Linked DNA regions of Homo sapiens. The protein of the gene in region 2 interacts with the protein of the main gene of each other region in a biochemical or structural test. Each region holds a gene or a part of one and is shown on either strand. Other genes may lie near its edges.

The links.
Region 1: the proteins of SRI (region 2) and ANXA7 interact in a biophysical measurement, tested with the Homo sapiens proteins (2 studies listed by BioGRID and IntAct, with this or other methods).
Region 3: the proteins of SRI (region 2) and RYR3 form a complex in vitro, tested with the Homo sapiens proteins (one study listed by BioGRID).
Region 4: the proteins of SRI (region 2) and RYR2 form a complex in vitro, tested with the Homo sapiens proteins (one study listed by BioGRID).

Annotation. Positions count from the first base shown.
Region 1 is NC_000010.11:73,410,931-73,418,370, forward strand, and holds the start of ANXA7 (annexin A7), read right to left. Parts: upstream 3,129-7,440; 5' UTR 3,082-3,128; intron 1-3,081. UniProt on the Homo sapiens protein: Calcium/phospholipid-binding protein which promotes membrane fusion and is involved in exocytosis.
Region 2 is NC_000007.14:88,216,954-88,224,320, forward strand, and holds the start of SRI (sorcin), read right to left. Parts: upstream 3,086-7,367; 5' UTR 3,074-3,085; coding exon 3,023-3,073; intron 2,272-3,022; exon of another isoform or gene 1,990-2,271; coding exon 1,906-1,989; exon of another isoform or gene 1,796-1,905; intron 239-1,795; coding exon 169-238; intron 1-168. UniProt on the Homo sapiens protein: Calcium-binding protein that modulates excitation-contraction coupling in the heart. Contributes to calcium homeostasis in the heart sarcoplasmic reticulum. Modulates the activity of RYR2 calcium channels.
Region 3 is NC_000015.10:33,306,495-33,314,382, reverse strand, and holds the start of RYR3 (ryanodine receptor 3), read right to left. Parts: upstream 3,417-7,888; 5' UTR 3,338-3,416; coding exon 3,287-3,337; intron 1-3,286. UniProt on the Homo sapiens protein: Cytosolic calcium-activated calcium channel that mediates the release of Ca(2+) from the sarcoplasmic reticulum into the cytoplasm in muscle and thereby plays a role in triggering muscle contraction. May regulate Ca(2+) release by other calcium channels.
Region 4 is NC_000001.11:237,612,024-237,619,439, forward strand, and holds part of RYR2 (ryanodine receptor 2), read left to right. Parts: intron 1-2,015; coding exon 2,016-2,820; intron 2,821-5,262; coding exon 5,263-5,463; intron 5,464-7,416. UniProt on the Homo sapiens protein: Cytosolic calcium-activated calcium channel that mediates the release of Ca(2+) from the sarcoplasmic reticulum into the cytosol and thereby plays a key role in triggering cardiac muscle contraction. Aberrant channel activation can lead to cardiac arrhythmia.

The DNA.
Region 1 (7,440 bases), on a different chromosome or scaffold from region 2:
AATTCCACTGCTGGGTATCTACCCAAAGGAAAGAAAGTCATTATATGAAAAAGACTTTTGCACATGTATATTTATAGCAGCACAACTCACAACTGCAAAGATGTGGAACCAATCTAAGTGCCCATCAACTGAGTGGATAAAGAAAATGTGGTATATATAAACCATGGAATACTACTCAGCCATTAAAAGGAACAAAATAATGTCTTTTGCAGCAACTTGGATGAAGCTGGAGGCCATTTTTCTAAGTGAAGTAATACAGGGGTGGAAAACCAAAAGCCGTATGTTCTCACTGTGTAAGTGGAAGCTAAGCTATGAGTATGCAAAGACATAGGTATGAAGTGATATAATGGACTTTAGAGACTCAGAAAGGGGAGGGTGAAAGGGGGCTAGGAATCAAAAACTACACATTAGGTACAATGTACATTACTTGGGTGACTAAAATCTCAGAATTCACCACCATATAATTCATCCATGTAACAAAAAACCACTTGTACTCCAAAAGCTGTTGAAATTTTATCTTTTTTTTTGGAGATGGAGTCTTGCTCTATCATCCAGGCTGGAGTGCAGTGGTGTGATCTCCACTCATTGCAACCTCCACCTCCCAGGTTCAAGCGATTCTCCTGTCTCAGCCTCCCGTGTAGCTGGGACGTGCCACCGCACCCGGCTAAATTTTGTATTTTTAGTACAGACAGGGTTTCATCATGTTGGCCAGGCTAGTCTCGAACTCCTGACCTCAGGTGATCCACCCACCTCGGCCTCCCAAAGTGCTGGGATTACAGGCGTGAGCCACTGTGCGGGGCCATTGCTTAAATTTTTAAAAAGGAGGGACAGGTGAAACAGATTATGGATAGCCATACAAGGAGGTGTTATGTGGTTATTAAAAATGAGGCAGCTTTTTCTTTTACCCATATATGAAACCATCTATAACACGTATTAATGAAAAAAAAAAAAGGCAAAGTGAAAAACTGCATAGTGTGCTGCCATTATGTGTAAAAAATGCACTGATTTTGACTTATAGAATATCCCTGAAAGGACACTCAAGGAAGTAGAAAACAGTGACTGCTTCCTGGATGAAGAGCTGGGACACAATGGAGAAGACTATTTACCTTTCTTTTTTCTTTTTTTGAGATGGAGTCTCGCTCTGTTGCCAGGCTGGAGTGCAGTGGCACGATCTCAGCTTACTGCAACCTCCGCCTCCGGGGTTCAAGAGATTCTTGTGCCTCAACCTCCTGAGTAGCTGGGACTACAGGCGCCTGCCACCACGCCCGGCTAATTTTTGTATTTTTAGTAGAGACGGGGTTTCACCGTGTTAGTCAGGATGGTCTCGATCTCCTGACCTCGTGATCCTCCCGCCTAGGCCTCCCAAAGTGCTGGGATTACAGGCGACAGCCACTGCGCCCGGCCGAGACTTACTTTTCAATGTACTTTAGCCCTTTTAGAATTGTACATATATCATTTATTCAAGAGGCAGATTTTAAACGTTTTTGTAAAAAGCTAAATAACACCCAGAGTGACTCAAAAAATTTCTCAACTTTGCCCAAGTGAATAGTAAGTCTAGAGTTTTTTGGGTTTTTTTTTTTTTTGTGACAGAGTTTCTCTCTGCCGCCCAGGCTGGAGTGCAGTGGCGATCTTGGCTCACTGCAACCTCTGCCTCCCGGGTTCAAGCGACTCTCCTGCCTCAGCCTCCAGAGTAGCTGGGATTACAGGCGCGCGCCACCACGCCCAGCTAATTTTTGTATTTTTAAGTAGAGACGGGGTTTCACCGTGTTGGTCAAGCTGGTCTCAAACTCCTCCTGACCTCGTGAATCTCTCGCCTCGGCCTCCCAAAGTGCTAGGATTACAGGAGTGAGCCACCGCGCTCGGGCTTTTTTTTTTTTTTTTTTAAACATTCTCTGTTAGCAATCACTTTTAAAAGACTAGAAAATCATTTTTGGTTTTCCAAACCACCTCCACCCAGTGAGTCAGTTAGTAAAAGGGCTGGGTCTCACCGTTTCTCATTGATGGCATGAAGCCCAGGAACCCAAGAGGCAGCTGTTGCAAATTTATGGGGGAAAAAATACACGAAACAGGAAGGGTGACTGAAGATACGCGCAACAGCGAATACAATTTTGCAAAACCGGCTTCTAGGTATGGTAGGATCATTTAAATCCGTCAGTGATGTGGAGAAAGAACATGGAGGCATGGCTAGTCCTCTGCACGGACAGGTAGGTAGCCAACCACCAGTGAGGACTGAAAGACAGTCCTCACTGAAAAGGACTGAAAGTTTGCAGTGGCCAAAATTATCTCTTTTACCTATTCAGTGCTTGAAACTCTTTCCTTGCCTGGAAGGTAACTCATTACACTCATCATCTAATTCGGACACATTTAGCAGATTAGCTGGCCATCAGCTGGCAAAAATCAGGGCGTTTACGGCAGTCGGAAGACAACAGCGTCATGTCTGTCACTTTACGGTGGACATCAGCCATCTACCTCTGCACCTTGGTTTCCTTGCGCAGTGTTTGCACAGGATGAGCTAATTTCAACACAGATTTGCTGCTGGTCGGGGAACAGCAATCAAATCTGGAATGCTATTCTAGAATAGCTTCCAAGAACTGTAAACGAGAACCAGTGTACGACCTTGGCCTGGCGCATTCTGTCCTACGGTTCACTAAACACAGTAAAAATTTCCCCAAGTTTCCCTAAATTCGCTGTGTCACCGGAAAGTACAGCCACTACCAGCCAGACGGCTTTCAGCACTGCCCGTGCGTTTCCCTACTCAGCCTCCCGCGAGGCAGCTGGGCCACGCTCCGGCCTCAGCCCCTCCACCTGCCCGAGGGCGGGGCGCCACTGGTCCCTGGGATTTCCAAACGGACGGAAGGGCTTCCCGTAAGCCAGGCCGGCCGCCTCACCCACGCCACCCCAACACACCCCGGCCGGCAGCCCGGCTACGAGACGCGCAAACCGAGTCGCCGCCATCCGGGAGGCCCACACTGCCCTCCAGCCGCGCCCCACTAGCACCGGGACAGCAGCGCCCAGAGCTGGCCGAGGGCAAGACCACCGAGGCAGACGAGGTGGGAAAGGGAGGGGGGCGCCGCTCCTCACCTGACCCCAGCAGCAGCGTCACAGCCCAACCCGGTCTCCCGCAAGATGGAGCCGGGGGCGGGCCCAGGGTGGGCGGGGCGTCTCGCGAGCCCGTTAGGATCGCGGCTGCAGCCGGGAACACCCCCGGAGCCGGAGAGGGCGCTGCGGGGAGCGGGCTGTCCCTCAGTCCCGCCCCTAGGCGCCACCTGAGGGAAAAAGACTCTCCCTTCGGGTGGCCCAGCGGATTTTTAATCACATTTATCTGTCGCAAGGACCCTGCACCAATCCCTTTTAAGGCTGCCTCAAGTCACCTAGGAAGTTGCAGCAGTCCTGGGGGTATCCGGGGCCCCTTCAGTGGCGGGCGGTAGAGAAGGGCTGAGACTGGGAGGCTGGTGCAGCCTCCCCGCCTCTGAAATACCGTCCTCCAGGTATTTTCTGGGGACAAAGACGGCGTTTTTTGTTAGCCTCCTGTGAAAGTAATATTTGTGGGAAATCTTAGTTGGAACTGTAGATGAACTAATCAAAATCACTCCCGAAAGGAGTTGTTAGGTGATTTTAGGCTCCCCTCGTGGCTACAGCATTGAACACACATTAGCATTAAACATTTGAGGCAATTACGAGGGCTCAGATCAATATTTTAAACTCGTTAAGGAATTTATATTACAGAGAAAACCAATCAGCTACCTTTTAGAGTGGTAAAAGGTAGCTTCTGGGTGTGGTCCCCCGAACAGCAGCATCACCTGGAAACGTGTTAGTAACGCAGATTATTGAACTCCACCTTAGACCTACTGAATCAAACTCCCCGGGTGGTGCCCAGCAACCTGTTTTAACAAGCCTTCCAGGTGGTTCTGATGCACACTAAAGTTTGCACATCTGATGCACATCAACTTACTTATTCCTCTACACACTTTTCTACCCAAAAGCTTCCTCATGGGGGTGGAATAGAGTGGATTACGATTTTAAATGGGAAGAGCAAGCAAAATATACGTGGCTTCCAAATAGGTGTGTGGAGTGAAAAGTATTTGAGGCAGGTCATTGCCTCATTTAACAATGGTAGACAAAATGCACAACTCTCTAGGTGACCAGCATTAATTCCCCGGCGCCCAACAGTCTGTCTACCTGGAAAATAACAGGACTTTCTGTCCTACCTACCCCAGAGACCTCCAGGATTTAAGCCTTCCCTGAGAAGCCTACTCTGTTCATTCTAGAGTTCCCTTTGTGAGCTCGTTCCAAACCCTCCCTCTGCCTTAAATACCACCATAACAGGGTATTTGCCAAACCTCTTATTTCCAGCCCACTTTCCTGAGCTGCAGGAATAGTCCAATAGTCTACTACGACATTTGCCATTTCATCCTTTCAATTCATCCTTTCTTCCTGGCATAAAAGGCGTTACAGGATCGGAGACCCTTTCCTCCTGCTACCTCTGCTTAGAAAGCACTGCTCATCTTTTAACAATTACTCATCTTAATTAGACTTGTTTTCAAGGTTGCTCATCTCCGTCTTGCTCCAATAAACTCTTCCTGATCTTCTTTTTTGTACTCAACTGGACCATTTTAATTTTTTAATTTTTTTGGAGACAGAGTCTTGCTCTGTCACCCAGGCTGGAGTGCTGTGGTGCGATCTAGGCTCACTGCAACCTCTGCCTCCGGGGTTCAAGCGATTCTCATGCCTCAGCCTCCCGTGTAGCTGGGAGGCATGTCACCACGCCCAGCTAATTTTTTTGTATTTTTAGTACAGATGGGGTTTCGCCATGTTGGCCAGGCTGGTCTCGAACTCCTGGCCTCAAGCGATCCACCTGCCTCAGCCTCCCAAAGTGCTGGATGTATTACAGGCATGAGCCACCATACCTGGTCAACATCTCTGAAGGCCATGGTATGTTCCAGAGTTCATGTGAAATAAGAGCCATCATGCTTCTAATGTGAACATCCCACTGTATCAGAGTCTGGTTTTTTTTTGTTTGTTTTTGTAGTTTTGAGACAGGGTCTCATTCTGTTGCCCAGGCTGGAGTGCAATGGCACAATCTCAGCTCATTGCAACCTCTGCTTCCCAGGTTCAACGAATTCTCCTGCCTCAGCCTCCCAAGTAGCTGGGATTACAGGCATCCGCCACCACGCCCAGCTTTTTTTTTTTTTTTTTTTTTTTTTTTTTTTGAGACAGAGTCTCACTCTGTTGCCCAGGCTGGATGGAATGCAGTGGCACGATCTCGGCTCACTGCAAGCTCTGCCTCCTGGGTTCACGCCATTCTCCTGCCTCAGCCTCCCGAGTAGCTGGGACTACAGGTGTCTACCACCACGCCTGGCTAATTTTTTGTATTTTTAGTAGAGACAGGGTTTCACTGTGTTAGCCAGGATGGTCTCGATCTCCTGACCTCATGACCCACCCGCCTCAGCCTCCCAAAGTGCTAGGATTACAGGCATGAGCCACCACGTCCGGCCTAAATTTTTATATTTTTAATACAGACGGTGATTTGCCATGTTGCCCAGGCGAACTCCTGACCTCAGGTGATCCACCCACCTCGGCCTCCCAAAGTGCTGGGATTATTACAGGTGTGAGCCACCACGCCTGGCCCAGAGTCTGGTATTTAAGTTCATATCCTTTTTGTTCCATTAGAATAGTAATTTTGTCCCTCAGGGACACCTGACAATGTGTGGAGACATCTTTGTTTGTCACAACTGAGGGGAGGTGGTGGGGTTACTAGCATCTAGTGGGTGAAAGCCAAGGATTCTAAACAAGGTACGTATCCTACAATGCCTACAGTCCCTACACAAAGAATTATTCAGCCCAAAAAGTCAATAGTGCTGAGGTTAAGAAACCCTGAGTCAGAGTGATCTTTCTAAAGAATAAATTGGGTCATGTAATTCCCGTGATTAAACTTTTTTAATAGCTTCCCACTGGAACCAGAATAAAATAAAATCCAAACTCCTGATGGTCTATTAAGCCCTAGATAATCTGGTCCCTGCCTACATCGCTCATCTAATCCCTTTTCACTTTTTTTTTTTTTTTTTTGAGACGGAGTCTTGCTCTGTCGCCCAGGCTGGAGTGCGGTGGTGCAATCTCAGCTCACTGCAAGCTTCGCCTCCCAGGTTCACACCATTCTCCTGGCTGAACCTCCCAAGTAGCTGGGACTAAAGGTGACTGCCACCACGCCCAGCTAATTTTTTTGTATTTTTAGTAGAGACGGGGTTTCACCATGTTAGCCAGGATGGTCTTGATCTCCTGACCTCGTGATCCACCTGCCTCGGCCTCCCAAAGTGCTGGGATTACAGGCGTGAGCCACGGCGCCTGGCCTTCACTTTCCTTAATCACTAACCTCTGAACACAGTGGCCTTCGGTCCAAACATACCAAGCTTGTGACCAAATGCACCAGATTCTCAGGACCTTGGCACTTGCTATTGCTTCTACTGGGAATGTTCTCCATGGTGTCATCTCAAATGTGGTCTCCTGGCTGGGTGAGTTGGCTCACACCTATAATCCTAGCACTTTGGGAGGCCCAAGGCAGGCAGATCACTGAAACCCAGGAGTTGGAGACCAGCCTGGGCAACATGGCGAGACCCCATCTCTACAAAAAACACAAAAATTAGTCAGGCATAGTAGTGTGCACTTGTAATCCATCTACTTAGGAGGCTCACAGGGGAGAATCACTTGAACCTGGGAGGCAGAGGCTGTAGTAAGCCAAGATCTCACTACTGCACTCCAGCCTGGGTGACAGAGCCTGACCCTATCTCAAAAAAACAAACAAAAAATGTCATCTCCTCAAGGTATTTCCTGAACATTAGTAGCTGCCACCAGCACAACCACCACTAGCAGCTATGCTCATTATTTAATTTTCCTTATACCACTTAAAAGCATCTGAAATTCTGGCCGGGCGCGGTGGCTCACGCCTGTAATCCCAGCACTTTGGGAGGCCGAGGCGGGCGGATCACGAGGTCAGGAGATCGAGACCATCCCGGCTAAAAACGGTGAAACCCCGTCTCTACTAAAAATACAAAAAATTAGCCGGGCGTAGTGGCGGGCGCCTGTAGTCCCAGCTACTTGGGAGGCTGAGGCAGGAGAATGGCGTGAACCCGGGAGGCGGAGCTTGCAATGAGCCGAGATCCCGCCACTGCACTCCAGCCTGGGCGACAGAGCGAGACTCCGTCTCAAAAAAAAAAAAAAAAAAAAAAAAAAAAAAAAAAAAAGCATCTGAAATTCTGTGTGTTTACTGTTTCTGTCCCCATCTAGAATGTAAGCTCCTTGAGAACAGGGATATCTTTAGAGCCTAGTAGTGAGTGTTTGATAAATAATTGATTGTCTGATTGACTACAATAGGGCCCCCAAAACCCAAGCCAACTACTTCGTCTGGTGATCAGCCAAATACAGATTTATTTCCAGCACTGGGAA
Region 2 (7,367 bases):
ACTGTTTTCAAATCAACATTTTGAAATAGTACTGTATTTTAGCTTTCGGAATTCTAAACTTTGCTAGATCCGACAAGCTCAGTTTTCTTGAAGGCTGTAATCACAAGTAACAGCTAAGATAGGAAACACAAGAGTATATTTAGACAAACTTTGGGACTGTCAACTTACGTTTGTATCCTCCAGCAATGCCAGACTGTGTCAGACATCTCTGCAATTCATCAGCATCTATCTGCCCATCCTTTTGAAAAAAAATTAGAGGAATCATAATAGTGATTTGTACTTTCAAGTTGTTTACCTTCAGCATTCAATGAAGCAATAACAACAAAGAAAATCAGTATCTTTTTTTTATTTAAAAGGAATGCCTTTTTTTTATTAAAAGGAATGCCTTCCAAAAGTGGGCATTCTTTTCCTTAACCCACTTCCAAAAGTAATTTAATGATGAAAGAAAGAGTCTGTCTTGGCAACTACTCTTCTCTCAATCTGAGCTAGCAAACTGCTACAGCTAAACATTTTAAAATATTTTTTTTTGATGGGGGTGGAGAGAGCAAGGTACAAAGCAGACATCAATAAATAGAAGGCTTGGTTCAAACAGAAAAAGGCCTCCTTGGTCACTTTTTCTTATGATATAGTGAATCATTTTTTTCAGAGCACAAATACATCTGGAAGATTCACATTAGGTTCCCAGTGCCCATTCACTGGCTGAACTGGGAAAGAACTAGATATATGTGATTTTTAGGGACTTTAAAATAAAATACCTAAATCTTCAAGTCACTGGGTATTATAAGTTATAAATGAGGAGCAAGATCAGCAATTTGAAAGACAATGGGTATGCTGAATACAGGCCAGGGCTGCTGAAAGCTAAGCAGGTGGAGTCACTTACATGCTGGAGGCACTGGCAATCTAAGAATGCTAGTCTTGAGGTTTGCCATGCCTTGTGGTTTCAAAGATACAGATCATTAACAGTTTAAGTAGATACTTAAGGGGAAGGTCTTCCAGTTTTAGACTATATTTTCCATTCAATTTCTTAAGCTGTATTTCTTAGAGTACTACCTTAAAAGTGGTCTTAGGTTTTTTATCCCATAATATTCTACAGTTTTCACATTAAGATTTTGCTATTTCTAGCTTTTGGTCAAAACAAAACTAGGTTGAATTCATAAGAACAAACATCTCCTCTGGACGTGTCTGGGTTATACCAACAGTATATTTACTGCACACAGTGACCTCATGAACTAGGGAAGTGTCCTCTCTCAATGTAAGATAGCACCTGTCAATGTAAGATAGCACCTGTCATACAACTCAGAATGCAGACAAGTGAAAGGTCTTGGGGAGCTGACCTTAATTGCTTCTCTGGGTCAACAGGCCAGAACACCTAATAAGGACATGGAGGGGCTGACCTAGTAACAGCATCTGCATCAAAGAGAAACTACACTGTTCACAAGATTAACTTTCTGATACTAAGAAGGGAACAGTAACTTCCTTATTTAGAAGCTGGTGGGTTTTTACCATATTTCCTAAGGGGGTGAATGATTAGCAATCAAGTTCAACCCAAAGAAAGTGCCCATTAGAATCGAGCTATGTAATTACTAATATATGTCTTTAAGTTGTACAAACAAGCGTTTATATTTACCAGATCTTGAATTTTTTCGCTTGAAACCATCCTGGACCCTTTAATTCAACCACAAGTTTGCTTTCGAACTGAACTCACATAAATACGAGTAACACTTTGTCCTCATTTATTCTGAACATTCAGAAATAAAAAACTAAAATAAGAAACAACTTTTTTTTTCTTTTGCAGAAGCAAAGGGACTCAGTACCACAGGAAGTTCGCTTTTCTGTGTCACTATATCAAAAGCTACCACAAATGCAGACAATAACGGCTCTTTAATATTAAAGGGAAAAGCTAACCTGTCCAGCTACAGCAGCAAAGTAACCATACAGCGGATCCTGAGTTTGTCCGGGAAACGCAGGCCCTCCGGGAGCCCCTCCATACTGTGAAACAGGAAACACATACACGTCATTCTGCCGAATCAAGTTTTCTTCTTTCACCACTGAGGGCTTTTGTGCAAGGCCAGACAACTGCCCGCCTGCCCGCCCTTCACAAGGCTCACCTCCCCACCACCGGGCACACTCTGCCAACACTCCACCCCTCTCTTCCATTCACACCCCGTAATTTAAAAACTGGCGACTTAGACCATAAAGAGTTGCTGTGAAAGTGATGTCTACATATGTAAAGCAACTTTTAAAATCCCTATTAACCTGAAGGTTACTGAGGTGAGTGCAAACTAGGTAAGCCAACGAATGGCAGGGCTTCAAATTCTCCTTTTGTTGTTACAGCATTTATGGTATTTTAAGAGCGTTTTATGAACGATGGAAGGCTGGAGTTGGTAACATTCTGAGACGGGTGTAGCCTAGGGAAGAGTAAGGTGTCCGGCCGGGCTGTATCTCGTGGGTGGCGAGGGAACATTGCCTGTCTCGGAAACAGTTCCCAAGACAACGCGCATCCCAGACGCCCGGCGAGGCTGCCTTCCTACAGGTCTTTTACTTCAGCAGGTTTTCCCTTTTTTTCCGTCCCCCTTCTCACTCGTTTTTTGTTTGTTTGTTTGTTTGTTTGTTTGTTTGTTTTTTAAAGGGAGGAAGGTATATCATTCTAGAATAAAATGACTGTTGTTGCTCTGGGAGGCAACCAAGAAGGCGGGGGTGGGGTGGGGTGGGGGTCAGCCAACACCCAATTAACACGATTTCACGCCGCGTATCCGAGAAGCCGCAGGGTGGGCTTCTAGGGTCCCAATCCACCCTCACCTTGGCCCCGCAGGGCCATCCAGGAGAAGGGACGGGGAAACGTGGGGAGAGGCCGAACCCCAGGGGCCTAGGGCGAGGCCGCGAGCGCAGGGAGAAGCCGAGGGCGGAAGGAGCCCGGGTAGCCGCCCAGCAGCGCCTCACCCCGCTGGCCGCAGCATCTCCAAGGTGGCCTCTTAGCGCCCCGGAGCCGCCTGGGCCGCGATCCCGCGCAGTCAGCACTTACCCCGCCTGGGTAGTACCCGCCGCCGGCGCCAGGATGCCCCGGGTACGCCATGCTGCAGACTGCGCCGCAGCCGCCCTCGCCCTGTGCGCCAGGCCTCTCCGCCCCCTGCCCCGCCCCGCCCTGCCGCTAGGGGGCCGCCCCAGAGCGCACCACGCGGGCGTGGGGGACGCGCTCCGCAGTCGTCTCCAGCTCTTGCCTGTGCGCGCGGCCGTGGCTCCCCTGCCTGCGCGCTTCTTCGTATCTTTGCCATTACGGCGCTAATGCAGTGCACGACTGAAGGTCCAGTGGCGGCCTACGACCTGCGAGGCAATTCACACCAGGGACTTTCCTCCCTCCAAAACTAATGGCACATTCCAACACCAATACACCACCCCAGGAATTCTTTTTTTTTTTTTTTCCTTCGGACTTGGCTATTATCTGGCACATTTCTTATTTTAAACAACTTTATTGGACAGGACGGAGCTATTATAAGCGGAGCGCACCATCGCGAGGCAGGGGCTGGATGCGTTAGGGCAAGCCTTAGGTGCCAGTGGGTGAAGGAGTCTTTGAAAGATGGAAATACGAAAGCGCCCTTGGAAAATAAGAATTAACTTGACGAACTGTGTGCAAGGGAGAGTTTGGCTTGCTGTTGGTTGCAGAGTTCACTGAACGACAACGGCGTATTTCCTTCCTAGGGGACAATTCCTTGCCTGTTTAAGCTGAGCGTGACTTGTGTCCTGAGTAGGACAGAGGGCATTTTCCGGGCAGGACAGACTCACACATATCGTTCTTAGGAAAATGAATTGTTTGAATTATCTGGATGATTCAGACAAAACAATCCATTTCCCTAAAAGTATTCAGCTACTTTTTATATAAGAAAAGTTTAGAACAAACTAATAGTGTACTGGTAAGTATTCAGGAAGATAAGAGATAGGAACTTCTATGTAGGTTATTCTTCTTTACTTCATATATTTTTCTATCTTCCAGTTGAATAGTCCGAAGCAATTCAGGCGTGAGCTTTTTGTTTTGTTTTGTGTAATTTCAATGACAGAAAATTGCTTGCCCTTCACTGTTAAGGACTAGACTTAATGATTTCCTGAATTTTAACGTATTGAGAAACGCATTAATAAGCAAGATTCACAGTATTTGTTGTGGAGGTTGCACAGAAACATTTAAAGGGTCATCAACATTTCACAAATATTGGAGCACCCGCCAATGTGGTACTGTGCTTTTTCGCTGTGGTGGACGGGCTTCCTCCATTCTAAATTCGTGGGCTATTGTCCTCATTCGGTTCATTGTTTTTCTCTTGTGTGTAACTTCCCTCGCAAGCCCTTTTGAAAACCAAAGTCCGAATTGTGAGAAAAATTCTAATAGTCCCTGTTGTGGCATAGCAAAGACACTGCATGTTGCCTGTTTTGTGTTTGATTCAGGAAGCAGGTTACTGTTTTCAATCATCAAGGTAGCAATCATCAAGGTAGATGAGACATCTAATGAGTCCCCTGGTCTCTCTTTGGAAGCCTGTTTCTTCAGAAAGAGGTAACCGACTATAAAGAGTAGATGTCAGGGCCGAACTCGATGTTGAGTACAAGCTCAAGACTCAAGTTTGAAAGAAGTATAAAGCATATAAAATATTTTTAAGTACTGCAGAATTAGCTTCGTGGATAAACGGCTATACGAATTGGCATATCAGTTGTCCTTAGACATCTTCCCACTGCTTTACTGCTAAAGAATTGAATTTTTTTTTTAATTACACTTTAAGTTTTAGGGTACATGTGAACATTGTGCAGGTTGGTTACATATGTATACATGTGCCATGCTGGTGCGCTGCACCCACTAACTCGTCATCTAGCATTAGGTATATCTCCCAATGCTATCCCTCTCCCCTCCCCCCACCCCACCACAGTCCCTAGAGTGTGATATTCCCCTTCCTGTGTCCATGTGATCTCATCGTTCAGTTCCCACCTATGAGTGAGAATATGCGGTGTTTGGTTTTTTGGTCTTGCGATAGTTTACTGAGAATGATGATTTCCAATTTCATCCATGTCCCTACAAAGGACATGAACTCATCATTTTTTATGGCTGCATAGTATTCCATGGTGTATATGTGCCACATTTTCTTAATCCAGTCTATCATTGTTGGACATTTGGGTTGGTTCCAAGTCTTTGCTATTGTGAATAATGCCGCAATAAACATACGTGTGCATGTGTCTTTATAGCAGCATGATTTATAGTCCTTTGGGTATATACCCAGTAATGGGATGGCGGGTCAAATGGTAATTCTAGTTCTAGATCCCTGAGGAATCGCCACACTGACTTCCACAATGGTTGAACTAGTTTACAGTCCCACCAACAGTGTAAAAGTGTTCCTATTTCTCCACATCCTCTCCAGCACCTGTTGTTTCCTGACTTTTTAATGATTGCCATTCTAACTGGTGTGAGATGGTATCTCATAGTGGTTTTGATTTGCATTTCTCTGATGGCCAGTGATGATGAGCATTTTTTCATGTGTTTTTTGGCTGCATAAATGTCTTCTTTTGAGAAGTGTCTGTTCATGTCCTTCGCCCACTTTTTGATGGGGTTGTTTGTTTTTTTCTTGTAAATTTGTTTGAGTTCACTGTAGATTCTGGATATTAGCCCTCAAACTATACTACAAGGCTACAGTAACCAAAACAGCATGGTACTGGTACCAAAACAGAGATATAGATCAATGGAACAGAACAAAGCCCTCAGAAATAACGCCGCATACCTACAACTATCTGATCTTTGACAAACCTGACAAAAAGAAGAAATGGGGAAAGGATTCCCTATTTAATAAATGGTGCTGGGAAAACAGGCTAGCCATATGTAGGAAGCTAAAACTGGATCCCTTCCTTACACCTTATACAAAAATCAATTCAAGATGGATTAAAGATTTAAACGTTAGACCTAAAACCATAAAAACCCTAGAAGAAAACCTAGGCATTACCATTCAGGACATAGGCATGGGCAAGGACTTCATGTCCAAAACACCAAAAGCAATGGCAACAAAAGACAAAATTGACAAATGGGATCTAATTAAACTAAAGAGCTTCTGCACAGCAAAAGAAACTACCATCAGAGTGAACAGGCAACCTACAAAATGGGAGAAAATTTTCGCTACCTACTCATCTGACAAAGAATTGAATTTTAATGGAGTGTTGCAAATTCAATTCTTACAATTATTGCTAACAAATTGGTCAGCTGCTAATACTTTAGTTTGCTGGAAAAAATTGTGGCAACTTATAATACCATCAGACATATATATAATAATAAAAATATGCCAGATCCTCATCGCATTTTACTTATTTGCTTAATCTTAATAAAAACCCATGGGATAGGTACTATTGTCATTCCTATTATACAGTTTTGAGGAAGGGGAAGGAACAGAACAGAGCTGAGCTATGCTGCCAAGCCATCTGACTCTAGAGTCTGTGCTCTACACCCAGGGGCAGGTAAAGGGCCAGGTAGTAAATATTTTAGGCCTGTGGGCCATACAGTCTCTGTATGAGAGAGTCTACATACATAGTGGTATGTAGACTATGTAGTCATAGTGGTATGGCCAAATACCACTCAACTCTGCTGTGTAGGCCACAAGTATCCATAGACAATAGATAAATGAATGGATGTCGCTGGGTTCCAATGCAACTTTATTTATAGACACTGAAATTTGAATTTCATATGACATGAAATATTATGCTTAATTTTATTTTTCCAACCATTTAAAAATGTAAATATTATTCTGAGCTCTTGGATGTACAGAAATAGGAGGTGGGTCAGATTTGGCCTTTGGGCAGTAGTTTACCAACCACTGCTGGAAGCCCCTCCAGAATGCGGGCTTATGACTCTGGCAGTTTAGCACTTTAGCAAATGATTTGCTGACTGTAAGATAAAGCCTATGGGTAGAATACAGTTATTTGTCAGAACGATTTACTAAGTCCTAAAAAAAAGACTGTAGGAGGGTTGTGACAACAGCATGGGTTAGGGAGAGAACTATGTGAGGTTTATAGATAGGATGCAGGTCATGGTTATTTTGGGAAGTCATTGGAATTACAGAAACCTTTCTGATCATATACTCCAATCCTGCTGTTTACAGAAGAAAAGACCAAGGCTGAGAGATGGCAAATATCTGGCCCCAGCTCTTGAAGAGCAGACCTAGCCAGATGTAGATATTTCACCCTTCCCAATTAAAGCTGTGACAGTAGATAAACATGCTCTCAGAGAGAATCCCATTCTTTTGTGGTACACCTTCCCTAATTATGTTTTCAAGACAAACGGCAGTGTGGACACTTTCTTATTCCTGGAGAAAAGTTAATATAAAGCTCTACATATAGTATCCAACCTGGACTTC
Region 3 (7,888 bases), on a different chromosome or scaffold from region 2:
TTGCTTTCAGATCAGCGGCTGGCAGGTTTATCTGCTTCTGAGCAGCTTCAGAGCCACGTCAATGACACTGGCTACGTCAGCAAGAGCAATCGGAAGAGAGGAGGATGCCACTGCCAACAGCAGTGGGAGGGAAAATTTTAGCCTTAAAGATTCTGTCTATCTGCCTGATTCTAACTGGCATACATGACTGTCAGTGATTTCAGAAGGCCAGAAGAGGGTATATAGTTTTAGACTGCCTCCTTAAGGCTTGGGGTACAGTAGCATTTAGTTCACATGTGTTTAAGCTTCCAAAGCCCTTGTTTAGGTCTTGTTCCCTACTTAGGAGAGGGTGGGCTTCCAAATGTATCAGAGGACATAACCAAAATAAACACTACCACAAATAAGTGTCTAAAGCCACACCACACACACCTACAGTGGTTACTGCAGTAATTCTGGCTCATTTCACACTATCAATAGTTCTAGCTGCTTTCATTTTTGGCACTATTATAACAAACCTGACACTACAACCACTAACAATTTGATTAGGATCCTTGGCATAATGCTATTGTATGGTCTTTTTTTGTAAATAGGTTAAAAGCTTCTGCTCTCTGGGATGGCAATCCTTTAAAGTTCATGGTTACAAAGATATGATTCTATTCCATGGTCCAGTATGAGTCACCTTCTCATCCAGGACCATGTCGATGTGAGGAAGCATTATATATGACTAATACACTGCCAAAATGCTTTTAAAGGTGTTGTCTGGGGAGGAGAAAGAAAGCCTAAGGCAAAGGTAACTGAGTGAGTTCAAAGTGAAATAGCTTCCCTAACCCAGACATACCCAGAGGAGAGAAAAATCCCACTGCTAGCACAAGCCTGGTGTTCCCAACTACCCTAAAGTCAAAATTTTGTGCAGAGATCAAAAGCTTATGGCTATTGGATTCCAAAAAATCATTTTGTCGAATTCACAGATGAAGAAGGAGGATGCCAAGCTCAGAAAGCTGCAGTACTCCTCTTATGTTCTTAGGTATATTCTTAAGACTATATATAACATCTGGCGTAACGCTCAATGCCAGGCTCTAGCGGGAATGTAATTGAACATTGTATAATGAAAATTACCAATAACTTGTCAACAGCTATGTTCAAGTCACTCGATTTCCTGTGCTTCAGTTTCATCACCTATTTCCTTCCCAGTGAGCTAAAAACAAAGATGTTAAGGTGCCTCATAGGGTGAAGAAATGAGGAACACACCTTAAAAAATACATAAGGTGATAACTAGAAGGAAAAGAACCAATAACGCCACATTTGGAGTCACTGCCCCCATGGTTACCACCATCACTCGCTCTAAGCCATAACCGGTATGCAGTTCTCTGCAACAGGGGCTCTGAACCTGGGTCCTTGAACCCCACAGGCTGTCATGGGTGTACTTTAAAAGAGGTCTGCCAGCTCTGATCTCTAGGGCAGGAAGCCCAGGACACAAAACTTAAGAACCACTACTATAGTAAACCTTGGCTACAGGTGTACCAAAAACAAACAAAAACAAAAAACACTTACAATGCCAGATGGAGAGGAAAAGTCAGGGAAGATGGCTCAGAAGCCAAGAGAAAAGCATAAGGATCTCACAACAACTACCACCTTCCTAAGCCTCAACTCCCTGGGACATCTATTCAACACTGACCCTGTCTGAAGATAATTTTTTCAAGCAATAACGCCTAGAAGATCATTAATAATAAGGAGAAGAAATGACTGATCATGGAGGACACAAGGCAGAAAAAACCTGAGCTGCCACCCATCCACTACTAAAGACACCTGTCAGAGGGACAACCAAAGGATTTGATGGAGCTTTGAGGGGAGCAGGCAGCTTTATAACAATAGGGTTGTCATGAGTTGCAACTGTGGGGCCATCTTGTGTGCAGTGTGAGAGATGAGAATGGAGTCTGGGTCTGCAGGTCAGACGAAGGATGAAGAGATGAATACTCTAGCCTCTCAGTAGTACCAGCAGGGCGATAGGTACTTCCATACCCCCCCCAAATAAGACCCAAGTCCCAGCTTTGACAAAAGAACCATGTTTGGAAGAGAAACTGAAGTAAATTGGAAGGAAGCGCTTCAACAGGAGGAGAGTGGTTCAAAAGATGGACAAGAGGTAAGTTGTGATCTTCGAAGACCAGGTCATGGAGAAGGGGGCACCCTTAAAGGGAAGTGAGAGAGGGAAAGAAAGAATTTCATTCTAATTCCTGAGAGCAAGGCAGCGCATATAAAATTACCTAAGATTTACAGAGCGATTTGCCGTTTACAAAACATTATGACATTCACGATAACGTTTAATCCTTATCACCCTGAAACGCTGGTTACATTTTATTTTACACATGAGGAAACTGAGGCTGAGTAGGGCGGATTATGCGACTTGCTCAAGGTCACTTGGCTGAAGTCAGCGCTAGGATGCATCCCCAATGCCCCCACCCCTCCGGGTGGCCGTCCACCCTGAAAGTCTTTGTATTATCTCCTACAGGGCAAGGCTGGTGTGGCTGCAACAGACTTCGCCCCCTCACCCCCAAATCTGGGACGGAGCAGCGCCCTCAGGTGTCAAGGAGGGGACCTGAGTGACGCGGAGCCACTGACTGGGGTTTCCCTGTCCTGCGGGGCTCGCGGGAGCCAGGAGCAGAAGCCACAGCTCTCGAACACACGACAGGCAGTCAGTCAAGTCAGGCTCCAGCAGCAGTTGCCGGCGTGGGGCTTAACACGAGAGGGGCAGCGCTGGGTGAATTCCCCTCCGAGCGATCCCAGGGCTAGGACCAAGCGCCTGCGCCCGCTTCTCCGACCCGGCTCCCCACACTCCCCCCTGCCCCGCTGGCTCCTTCCCGGAGGTTCCCCTGTGCGTGGGGGCGCCCTGGAAGAGGAATGGGGCTGGGGTGGAGTATGGAGGTGTCAGAGGGCCGACCCCGGGGCGAGGGCTTCCAACGCCGATCTTATGGGTCAGGACAACCGCGAACAAACCCCGGCTGAAGTTTGGGCATCAAGGGTTTCAGACCAAGTAGCAAGTTGCCTGGAGAGCGAGCGGTCCTAGGTGGAGGGCCTGGGGCAGGGGTGGCGGTAGGGGAACAAGGGAGAGGCAGGAGATGGTGCCCCTTCCCACGCAGCCCCTCGCGGCCCCGCGGGTAGGTGGCCGGTCCGCCTCTGCAGCCCGCGGGTGCGGAGAAAGCGCCCGGCACCGGGCACCCGGCACCGCGGCGCAGCGCAGCCAGCCCCTCCTCGCCGCGCTCCGCGCTCCTCCCCACCTGCCCACGGCCTCGCCCCCGCCGCGGAGACTCACAGTCCTCAGAAACTGGATCTCGTCCTCGCCTCCTTCTCCCCCTTCGGCCATGGCTCCCGAGGCGTCGGCGGTGCCCCAGCCTCCGGCGCCTCTGCTTCCCCCGGCAGCCGCTCGGCGTGCGCTGACTGCTGCTGCGCTCTTTCTCCTCCTCCTTTTCGTCCTCGTCCTCCACCTCCTCCTCCAGCTCCTGGCTCAGCCTCAGCCTCAGCAGCGCCAAGCTAATCCCCGACCATATAGGGAGCTGGGCTAACACTCCACTGCACTGCAGAGCGCCAACGCCAACCAAGCAGTCCGCCCACCCCTCTCGCCTCTCGCCCCAGCCAAGTGCGCTGCGGCCGCCCGCTCCGTGGAGAGCGCAACGCTGGGCGCGTCGAGCTGGCGGGGGCGGTGCGGGGGCCCTGGGCTGGCGCGGTGGAGCCTCCCCCGCACCGCTGGGTACCGCACCGCACACTCAGCGGAGGCGCGCGCCCCGCGGCGACCGGAGGATGTCCCCTAAACTGCTCCAATTCACAAACAAAGGCCAGTTGCTTAGCTCCAGCGCGCCCAGACTGGGTACCAACCCTCTCGCTTTGCTCGCTTTGCCCGCTTTGCCCACTTTGCCTGTGTGTGTGTGTGTGTGTGTGTGTGTGTGTGTGTGTGTGTGACAGAGATAGAGAGAGAGAGAGAGGAAAGAGAGAGACAGAGACAGAGAGAGAGAGAGAGGAAAGAGAGAGACAGAGACAGAGAGACAGAGAGAGGAAAGAGAGAGAGACAGAGACAGAGAGAGAGAGAGAGAGAGAGAGAGAGATCTGGACTCGAATACCTTGCTAGGACCCGCGTGCATTGTTGGGCAAGGAGAAGACGGTGCAGTGAGGAGCGAGGGTGATTGTCCACTTACAACAAAGTTTGCAACTCCCTGGATAGTCCTTTCTACACCTTAAGAGAACCCCTTCCCCTCTTCAAAATTGGTAAGTACACTTTACCAAACCCCTGGATTGTCCAGGGTTGCTGTGACTTCTGTACCCCAGGGAGCTTCTGGGGGATCCTGTGCCACCCTCAATTTGGAAGTCAGGTGGCATCACAACCCTTCCTCTCTGCCCACCCCTAACCTTATTCTGCATTTAGAGTTCCAGCCCTGTGGACTCTAAAGGGAGTAGAGAGTAGTTACAGGAGGCTCCCTTCCAGGTCCTGGAAGGCTCCTACATCCCACCCAGCCTTAGGTCCTTTTCCATGGTTGGGGATTGCCAGATTGGTCCTTGCCTTGACTGACGGTGCAGGGTGCCCCCTTCTGTTTGATGGCCGAGAAGCTCCAAGGCAAGAGACTGTTCAAGGCAAAAGGCACCAGAGATGTAGATTTAGGAGGAAGTGCAACTGGGAAGGTGGTAATTCTGGGCTGATGATGGTGGAAGACACTGGAAACCCCAAGCCATTTCACAGCTTCATATACCGCCTCCTTGTGGACGACATCTATCTCTTGATGCTACCTTAAGATCTCTTTCCTGAGCTTCCGTCCCATATGTTCTGATGAACATCAGAAATGCAAAGAAAAATGTTTTTTTCTTGTATTGTACTCAAACTGCTACCTTCTAGGCTTCAGCTTGGGCCTTGTGCCTCTTCTGAAACCCGCCTAGAATAAGTCAAACCATCTGTACATTGTGGCCCTTCACCTCTTAGAAGGCATCTGCCATGCTTGCCTCTATGGCCCACCATCCACTCTTTTCTTCTCCTGGCTCAAGGTTCTTCTTAGCCCCAACTTTCCCTGTAGTATAGTTTCCAGAGCCTATGTCATCTTTGATGGCCATATGAGCATTCCAGGTGGTCTTCTTCCTGAATTGTTGTGCTCTCCGTCCTTGTTTTGGACAGTCTTTATGTGCAGCCTAATATTGGATTGGCTTCTGGAGAAACACTAATGACACTCACTGTGTTTGGAGTTAACTAGAATTTCTAGATTTACTTTTTTCCTCCCACGTGAACTGCAAAAGTCAGCTCTTCTCCATCTTGATCACATGCAAGTGCTTGAGTACCTGTGGGCACGGTGGCTCACGCCTATAATCTCAACACTTTGGGAGGCCAAGGCGGGTGGATCACCTGAGGTCGGCAGTTCGAGACCAGCCTGACCAACATGGAGAAACCCCATTTCTACTAAAAAAAAAAAAAAAATACAAAATTAGCCGGTCGTGGTGGTGCATGCCTGTAATCCCAGCTACTTGGGAGGCTGAGGCAGGAGAATCGCTTGAACCCGGGAGGTGAAGATTGCCGTGAGCCGAGATCATGCCATTGCACTCCAGCCTGGGCAACAAGAGCGAGACTCTGTCTCAAAAATATGTGTGTGTGTGTGTGTGTGTGTGGGTGGGTGTGTGTGTGTTCCTTCCAATTGTAATACCCAATCATGTATTGATGTCTCTATATGTGAACCTTTAAGGTATTTTTAAAGCTAGAGTATGCCAGGCAAGGTGCTAATTATTACTAACCTGTGATATGGCATACCTTCAGAATACTAATAGAGGCCCTCTTGGATTAACTTTCATACTTTTGATTATGCTTAATATGGCATACCTTCAGAATACTAATAGAGGCCCTGTTGGATTAACTTTCATACTTTTGATTATGCTTATTTAATGATCAAGAACTTACCTAAGTCAGAAAAATAATACCTATTGAGTACTATGCTTATTACCTGCGTGACAAAATAATCTGTACACCAAACCTCCATGACATGCAGTTTACTTATGTAACAAACCTACATATGTACCCTTGAACCTAAAATAAAAGTTATAATTAAAAAATAACCTACATAAATATATTATTTTGCAGCCCAAATTTCTTCTTGTTCATAGGGCTACTATAAATGCCTTTCTTACATACTTTACTGAAATACAGATATGTAATCTGGGACACCACCTCCCGCATCAGTCAAATAACCCTACCACAAAAGAAGTAAGAATGGAGTTCTGTAACACCATTGGTGCATCCACTTGGATTCCTGATGGTCTTTGTGTTCCTTTAGAGTTCCCAAAAGTAAGCTGTTTAATTATCAAAATCTAAGATTGTTCTGGAGCTCAGCGTATAAAAGAGTCTCAGGCTGTTGTTTCAGACTGTAAACTGGGGAAGGTGGACATTTACTTCTATTTGAAATCTATTGGTACTTCTTCCATTCTCTAAGATTTCCCAAAGATGCACCAATAATGATGCTGTAGTCATACAGGTACAGATAAATAGTAGTTCAGACACTGTGCTTTGATACTTGTTTTGCTATTAGTTCACCCATTAAGACCGGGAGAGAATAAACTAATAGTAAGTTACTTGTCTAAATTCATACATCTAGTAAAAGGAGTCACACAATCTCCTCTTACTTGGAGTAAAACAATCTCAATACTTTTCAGTACTTTCTCCACTATAGTGCCTTGCTTCTAGAACAGCAAAGTGGAAAACATCAGGTTCATACACCACCTCCATGCCCCCATACCCCATACACATTGGGTTTGCTTCCACACAGCCTATATTTTAAACTGAGTCTCTCTCAAGACCAGTTACTCTTAGTAGAGAGCCGGAGGACTTGGACCTTAGGTCTTAGAGGGTACTGTAGCTACTACATTTTGAAAGAAAAACCCAAAGCCTCCCAGGTTTCTAAACCTCTGGAGAAAGCTATCAGCCATTATTATGACTTCAATTAGGTGCACACAACAGGGAAATCAAATACCTTTGGGATACTGGCATGGTTCAAAGTCAGACCTCAAAGCCTGCTGTATTTGAATGTTGGGGCACTCTGCAGCCAATATCAACAGCAGGTGGAGAGCCTGTAGTGGGGGCCAAATCAGAAATTTTTCATTTTTATCATTATAGCACTTTTATACCTTTTACATATACAATTTTAAAGGCCTGACATTGAAATATTGTTATTCAATATTGACTATTGAAATAAAATTCATGTATTTATTTTCTCCTCTGGAGGTTCTCAAAGTATTGGTCCTAAGGATTTTCTCACATAAGAGGGCCTCTTATTTGTGTTTTAACAGTAATATTGCTATAGTTTTAAAATGCTAATGAAAATGTCCACACTCATATAAGTCAGTATCTCATTTGCTATGTTGTATTATTCATGGTAGCCAGTTGCCCAAGTGGTCTCAATGAGGCCAAGGATATGGATTCAGTTCTAGGAGGGCCAGTTAGCTTCACTCCATTTGCTGTCCAAAGACTCTGGCCCCTTCATTCTGGTTAAAAGTCTCATACATCTTTGTTCATTTAGCCATAGGGGAGGCAGGCTTAAGCTTTAACAAGCTAGGACTTCCCATGCTTGGAGACACAGAAGCTAAGAGGTCACACTTGATAAAGATAGCCTTCACCCATGTTACTAGCAATATATTAAATTCTACACAACACTAAATCTTTCTCCAATATCCATTTCAGCCTCACTTCCTAACTATAGCAGCCATCCATTTGCTGAAAATGCATTTCTTCCATTAATTGCGCTCATGGCTTTGGTCTGCATTGACTCAGGATTTGCCTAAGGAACATATAAAAGGGAATGATGCAAAGAACTGTAGAGTTGAGGGAACTGACTCTGCTAGCTACCATCTTTTAAAATATCTCACCATATACACAAGTACTATTATATACTGACTG
Region 4 (7,416 bases), on a different chromosome or scaffold from region 2:
GTTCACCAGCTTATGAGTCAATAAACAAAATGTGATATATCCATATAATATTATTTGGCAATAAAAATGATTGAAGTACTGATATATGCTACAAAATGCAAGAACTTTGAAGACATTATATTAAGTGAAAGAAACCAGTCACGGAAGTATATTAAGTGAAAGAATCCTACTAGTGTGGGATTTTATTTAATTGAAAAGTCCATAATAGACAAATCTTTAGAAACGAAAAGTAGATTAGTAGTTACCTAGGGCTAGGAGCGGAACAGGACTGCTAATGGGTACTAAATTCCTTTTGGGATGATAAAAGTGTTCTAAACTCAACTTATAGTTATAGTTACACAACTCCATTAATATACATAAACTATTAAATTATGTATTTTAAGTAGGTAAATTGTATAGCATGTAAATTACAGTTCAACAAAGATATTTTAAAACAAAAGAAAATCAAAGAAAAATTAATCTGGCTAGTTAATTCTTTTTATGTATTACATATGTATTTACATTTTTTACATGAGGTAATTAGATATCTTTCATAATGTACTCTTGAGATGGTTCAGTTTGATTTTAATTTTGTATTCTTTTTTTTTGTGAGAAGAGTTTTATCATAATTTTTCATCTGATGATGTTTTTTAAGAAAATACCGAACAACCAAAACAAACACAACATTTGGGAAGGAATTCTTGTTTATGAAGGAAAACGTTGTGTCTCTACTGAGCATGGAATTTTAACATTATAATTTAACATTTTGGCATGCTATCATCGAAAACCAACATAACACCTTGTCTCAGTAGTTTATATTAATTGCCTGTGATAGATGTGTATGTATGTGAATGGATAATGTAAACTCTCACTAAAGATCATAAAGGATTTGAGGCAGTTTTCCAAATGATATGGAACATGAATGTATAAAAATGTGTCACTGGCATCAGGCCATAGAAAATATATGGATAGGAAAATAAAACTGAGGCTAAGAGTGACACACAGTCATTTATACCACACCGATTGGTAGAGTTGGGGCCCACATTAATTTCATTCTTCCTAGCAGCCAAAGAAAAATATGATGAGTTTCAAAATCCAAATTCCAAAAAAGGAAGTCTTAACTAGCATGGTTGAGAAGAATCTGATGCCCCAATAACATGACAAATCATTAATATTTTAAAGTGTGCAATGGTGGTAGATTTATGTCAGTGTGTACTTTGTTTCTCCTTAACACATGTCACAGTTTATAATTTAATTTACTCCATTTTGGTCAGCGGGGGTGGTTTACTCCCTCAATTGAATATAAGCTCCCTGGGGGCAGGAATCATGTCTATATTATTCACCATTGTATCATCAGTGCGCAGTGCTAATACATAATAGGCACTCAGTGATATTTGATGAACAATTGAATGACAATGACATATGAAAGAAATTTCTCCACTAGAGACTTTTTTGTTGTTGTTTCTTTATTTATCTATTGTTTTGAGGTGGAGTCTCACCATTGCCCAGTCTGGAGTACAGTGGCGCGATCTCGGCTCATTGCCACAGATCCTTGATACAATGGAGGAGGAAGGAGGTGCTAGATGAATGTCAAATTCTATGTAGAAGAAAATTTGTAGAACATCTAGAAATGATTAAAAGTACTATGCAGCCATTAAACATGTCATAGAAAATTAAAAGAAGACACAGGTTGGGTGTCCCAAATCCAAAAATCTGAAATTCGAAATGCTCCAAAATCGGAAACATTTTGAGCACCAACATAATGCTCAAAGGAAATGGGGTATTTCACATTTCAGACTTTCAGATTCAGGATGCTCAACCGGTAAGTATAATGCAAACATTTCAAAGTCTGAATAAAGTCCCAAATCCAAACAATTCTGGTCCCAAGCATTTCAGATTAGGGATGTTCAACCTGCAGTGTCTATTCCCATAACTTTTTTCCTTCAAATTTACAGTGCATACTGATTTCTCCTCTGATTCAGATTTTAAAAAATCATTCATTTCTAATCTTACTACCACTCTCCTCCCTTCTACAGATCTGTTGACATCTTAGAGTTGACAGAGCAGGAGGAATTGCTGAAATTTCACTATCACACTCTCCGGCTCTACTCAGCCGTCTGTGCTCTTGGGAACCACCGGGTGGCCCATGCCCTGTGCAGCCATGTGGATGAACCTCAGCTCCTCTATGCCATTGAGAACAAGTACATGCCTGGTTTGCTGCGTGCTGGCTACTATGACCTGCTGATTGACATCCACCTGAGCTCCTATGCCACTGCCAGGCTCATGATGAACAACGAGTACATTGTCCCCATGACGGAGGAGACGAAGAGCATCACCCTGTTCCCTGATGAGAACAAAAAACACGGCCTTCCAGGGATCGGCCTCAGCACCTCCCTCAGGCCACGGATGCAGTTTTCCTCCCCCAGTTTTGTAAGCATTAGTAATGAATGTTACCAGTACAGTCCAGAGTTCCCACTGGACATCCTCAAGTCCAAAACCATACAGATGCTGACAGAAGCTGTTAAAGAGGGCAGTCTTCATGCCCGGGACCCAGTTGGAGGGACTACTGAATTCCTCTTTGTACCTCTCATCAAGCTTTTCTATACCCTGCTGATCATGGGCATCTTTCACAACGAGGACTTGAAGCACATCTTGCAGTTGATTGAGCCCAGTGTGTTTAAAGAAGCTGCCACTCCGGAGGAGGAGAGTGACACGCTGGAGAAAGAGCTCAGTGTGGACGATGCAAAGCTGCAAGGAGCTGGTGAGGAAGAAGCCAAGGGGGGCAAGCGGCCCAAGGAAGGCCTGCTCCAAATGAAACTGCCAGAGCCAGTTAAATTGCAGGTAATCAGAACAAGAGACTTGAGTGAATTTCAGAATTGCTAAGCATTAAGGTATTAGAACATGCCTTTGTTTCTTTCTCTGTGTGTGTGTTTATTTCTTTGCATTCCTGTGTAATGGTAGTTCTTCATAAAATTAACTAACTTCCTATTCTTTTCCCTCTTATTCATTAGCCATCTCCTCTTGTTTCCCAGATGCTTTTTACCTTCATTACATTGGAATACCTGAAATACAAGCCATCAAATACCCCTTTCCACCCATATTTCCACTCTTACCAACCTTAGAATACTTGTTTACCAGTAGATGCACCCATTGTCACATAGCAAGGTTTTACTTTCCCCTAGTATGCTTTTGTTTTGTTCTTTTGAGACAGGGTCTCACTCAGTCACCCAGGCTGGAGTGCAGTGGTGGTGCAATCATAGCTCACTGCAGCCTAGAACTCCTGGGCTCAAGCCATCCTCCCACCTCAGCTTCTACAGCAGCTGGGACTGTAGGTATGCCACCATGCCCAGTTAATTTTTTTTTATTTTTAGTCGAAATGAGGTCTCGCTCTATTGCCCATGCTGGTGTCAAACTCCTGGACTCAAGTGTTCCTCACTCCTCATGCTCCCAAAATGCTAGGATTACAAGTGTAAGCCACTGCACCCAGCCACCTTAGTATGTTTTTAAGGAATCAGACACACTGGCTGTCTTTATGCTCCTCAAGATGTCTAAAGGGTCCTTTATTAATGTCTCCTCTGTTTATTAAAGTCAATTGGATGTTTGCATCGCTGACCTGCTTTTTTGCTCCTCGTTCCTTTAGTCAGCGTTGACTGAAGCCTTACTCTGGGTATGCACTTAGGGGAAACACAAGTGAACCCTGCCTTTCAGAATCTCACAGCCTCTAAGGAAATATACACTCATTTATGCATTAAAAAATCTTATTGCTAATTGCATTAAATACTCTGAAGGCAAAGAATGGATTACTAAAAGAAAGAACATTTAGACTGGATTACTGTTAGAAAGATGAGGGAGAAGACCCCTCAGAGATTTTGACTTTTAAGCTGAGTTCAGATTTAAGAGTTGTGCTCAGCAGTTACAAGAAAAAGGAACAAGGCAGGGTGTTCTAGGAGCTTTCCATGCAAAACAAATAGCCCAGCAAAGGTCCTGAGGCAGGAAAAGGCCAGTGTGGCTGCTGGTAGGAAAATCGATAAGGGAGGAAAGAGAGTGTGATCTAGTGTCTGGTTAGTCAGGAGGCTTTCTTGCTGGTCCAAACTCTAGGAGACCATGCTCAGAGGAGGGTGGGGCAAAGGAGATGGAGAAAAGGGGTTGGACACTGTGACTACTTCAGAGACAGCACTGATAGAAATGGTTATATTGTAGATGGTGACACAGAGGGTTTTAAGGTCCTCTTTGACACTGTCATGTATTTATATCACAATTGGTATTGAGTGTATAGATTTTTTTAAAAATTTGGCAGAGCATTCTCTCTTAGAAATGTTTCTACCAACATACTCACTCAGTTATAAATCCTTTTGGTTTTCAGTAGGAGAAAGACCCAGCTAATCACTGAATGAATGAGCATTCACCACTTAATTGTCTTAAGTTTAGATTTCTAGAATTGGTACAGCAGTTCAATGATCTCATCCATAACCCAGATCTTAATATTTTTCTGCTCTGTGATCCTCAGCCTGTGGTTTTCTTCCTAAAATGCTCACCTTATTCTTTCTGCAGTAATCATGTCATCACCCAGTTACACTCATTTTGAAAGAAGGGAACTCTAGTCTCTTATCACTGATGGAATAACTTTCCCAGAAGACCCTTAGCAAACTTTCCCTTATATATTTCATTGGCCATTGCACCTGTGGCTGAAAGGGAGGCTGGGAGGGTAAGTGTATTAGTTCGTTCTCACACTGCTAATAAAGACATACCTGAGACTGAGTAATTTATAAAGGGAAAAGGTTTAATGGACTCACAGTTCCACATGGCTGGGGAGGCCTCACAATCCTGGCGAAAGGCAAATGAGGAGCAAAGTCACATCTTACATGGTGGCAGGCAAGAGGGCATGTGCAGGGGAACTTCCATTTATAAAACCATCAGATCTTGTGAGACTTATTCACTACCACGAGAACAGCATGGGGGAAGACACCCTCATGATTCAGTTATCTCCACCCAGCCCCGCCCTTGACATGTGGGGGTTATTACAATTCAAGGTGAGATTTCATGGGGAAAGAACCAGACCATATCAGTTAACATCCACTAAAGGGACATTTGTTTGCCATTTTTGCTTATACAAATTATGTTTCATCTCCTGGGACCGAGCACATTGCTGCCTATACAAAATCAGGATTCTGTTTCTAAGAGAGAAGAGTAGGCAACTAAGGATGTTTACCACAGATTATGATTTCATACACATTATTAAAGGATTTAGAAATTAAATTTGGTGTCTTTTTAATGGTCTCTTAGATGTGCCTACTGCTTCAGTACCTCTGTGACTGCCAGGTCCGGCACCGGATAGAAGCCATTGTAGCCTTTTCAGATGATTTTGTGGCTAAGCTCCAAGACAATCAACGTTTCCGATACAACGAAGTCATGCAAGCCTTAAACATGTCAGCTGCACTCACAGCCAGGAAGACAAAGGAATTTAGATCACCACCTCAAGAACAGGTACAGAAATGAAATGAAAATTCTTCGTATTTATGTTGGCTTTTAGTCATTCAGGATCTCTGCCTTGCAAAATTATATAACTCACACGTCTTGTTTTCCTTGTTCTGTTTAAAGTCTTCAAGTTGATTTAGTTAGTATTCTTAGTTTCACCAAAAGAATTTCTTTGGTTAGTTTACACAAAAGAGGGACTTATTAGAAGATATCAGGTATATCACCGACTCTTTGAGAAGGCCAAGATATGCCAGAGTCTGAAGTTCTTCAAATAGGAGCAAATTTCAACCACAAATGGGTCTTCATCATCTTCCACTCATAGGAATTTTTGATTCCTAGGACTCGATGCTAGAGGCTTTCCATTTGTGCCTACCATAGAAGAAACACATGTCTCTTCCACCTTGCTTGCCGGAAGACTGATTACCTGCTTGTGGTTTCTTCCTTTCATTGCTTACCCCCAAAGTCAGGTCTCCTGAGGGTACAACAGAACAAAGGGAACCTGCCTATATCAGAGAATGGGCTAGTTGGGGGATGTAAATTTTCTGGAATCTACCTCAGAGTGGGCCTCAGAGTGTGGGAAGTTACTGGCGTAGGGATGGTGTTAAACAATGTAATTCACAGATGTCTTTTTTGATTTCTTACCCTTACCATTTTCTTCTCTATCCAGGGTAGCTCAGAATGAAAGTGTTTATAGGGACTAATTACAGAATTTTTTTTTTTCTCACCAGAATGTAATTTCTTTGAGGAAAGGGATGTGGAATTTTCTTAATTGTTATAAACAGCATTTATTGAGCAGAGAACAGGTCCAGCCTCTTCCAGATTAACTCTGTTAAACTACTGTTGGGAAACTTCTGCTTCTGGAAAGATGGAGTACATGTGCTTTTCCCGATTCTTCCTTTTAAGTACAACTAAAACCCTGGACATTACAAAGAAGACAACATAAGAAGGCTCTGAAAGATAGAGAGAAGAAGAGAGGTTGGCTACAGAACTCAGGACCCAAGGAACAACATGGTGGTGAGTTCCCTGGATTTTCTTTTTGCCTCATCTATCCCAGATTTGAAGCTAAAGAAGACGACAACCAGGAAACACCAATGGGCATAGACAAGAAAAGCTGCAACAAAAGCCTCCTCTTTCTAGATAAAGGATCAGGGAAGGGGCAGCTTAGCAAGACAGAAATGTGTTAGATAATAACTGCACTACTGAAGCCAAAAACCACAGAAAAAACTGTTCCCCACCCACACTGGGCACAGGCTGAGTGGGGAACCTTGACTTCCACTCTCACCAGGCTGTAACAAGGTGTCCCAGTAGAGGACAGAGCTGGGACTTTATCCCCGCTGAGTAGTAACAAGGCCCATTTCTTCCAAAGTATCAGTAGAGGTTATGGAAGGAGAAGTAGCAAGACACTCTTACCTTTCTAGCAAGGTTCACATCAGTACAGGTCTAATGAGGAACCAGAACTTTTTACCACTGCCCAACAGTAACAGGGTCCCTTCCCTCCTCCAGATGTCCAAGAAGGCTGAGTGGGAAAATGGACTTCGCCTCCCACCTGGCAGCAATAAGATACCCTAAGCCCTTCTCCTGCTGGATGGGGTCAGAGGAAACCAGGTGAAACAGAGTTAAAAATAAGACCCAGAGCTCCTAGCATAATCCTCAAAATGTTGAGATTTCAATTAAAAATCATGTGTGTGAAGAACCAAGGAAAACTTGAATGAAAAAACCAATCAATAAGCACCAACACTGAGATAACAAAGATGTTAAAATTATCTGATGAAGTTTTGAAAGCAATCGCCCTGTAATTCCTTCAAAATGGAAAAGAAATAGAAAGCCTCAACGGCAGAGAAACAAAATATATGGCAAAGAACCAAATGGAAATTTTAAATCTGAAAAATATAATCACTGAAATTTTAAAACTCAATGAATAGGCTTAAAAGCAGAATGAAGGGAGAAGAAGGAACAATCAGT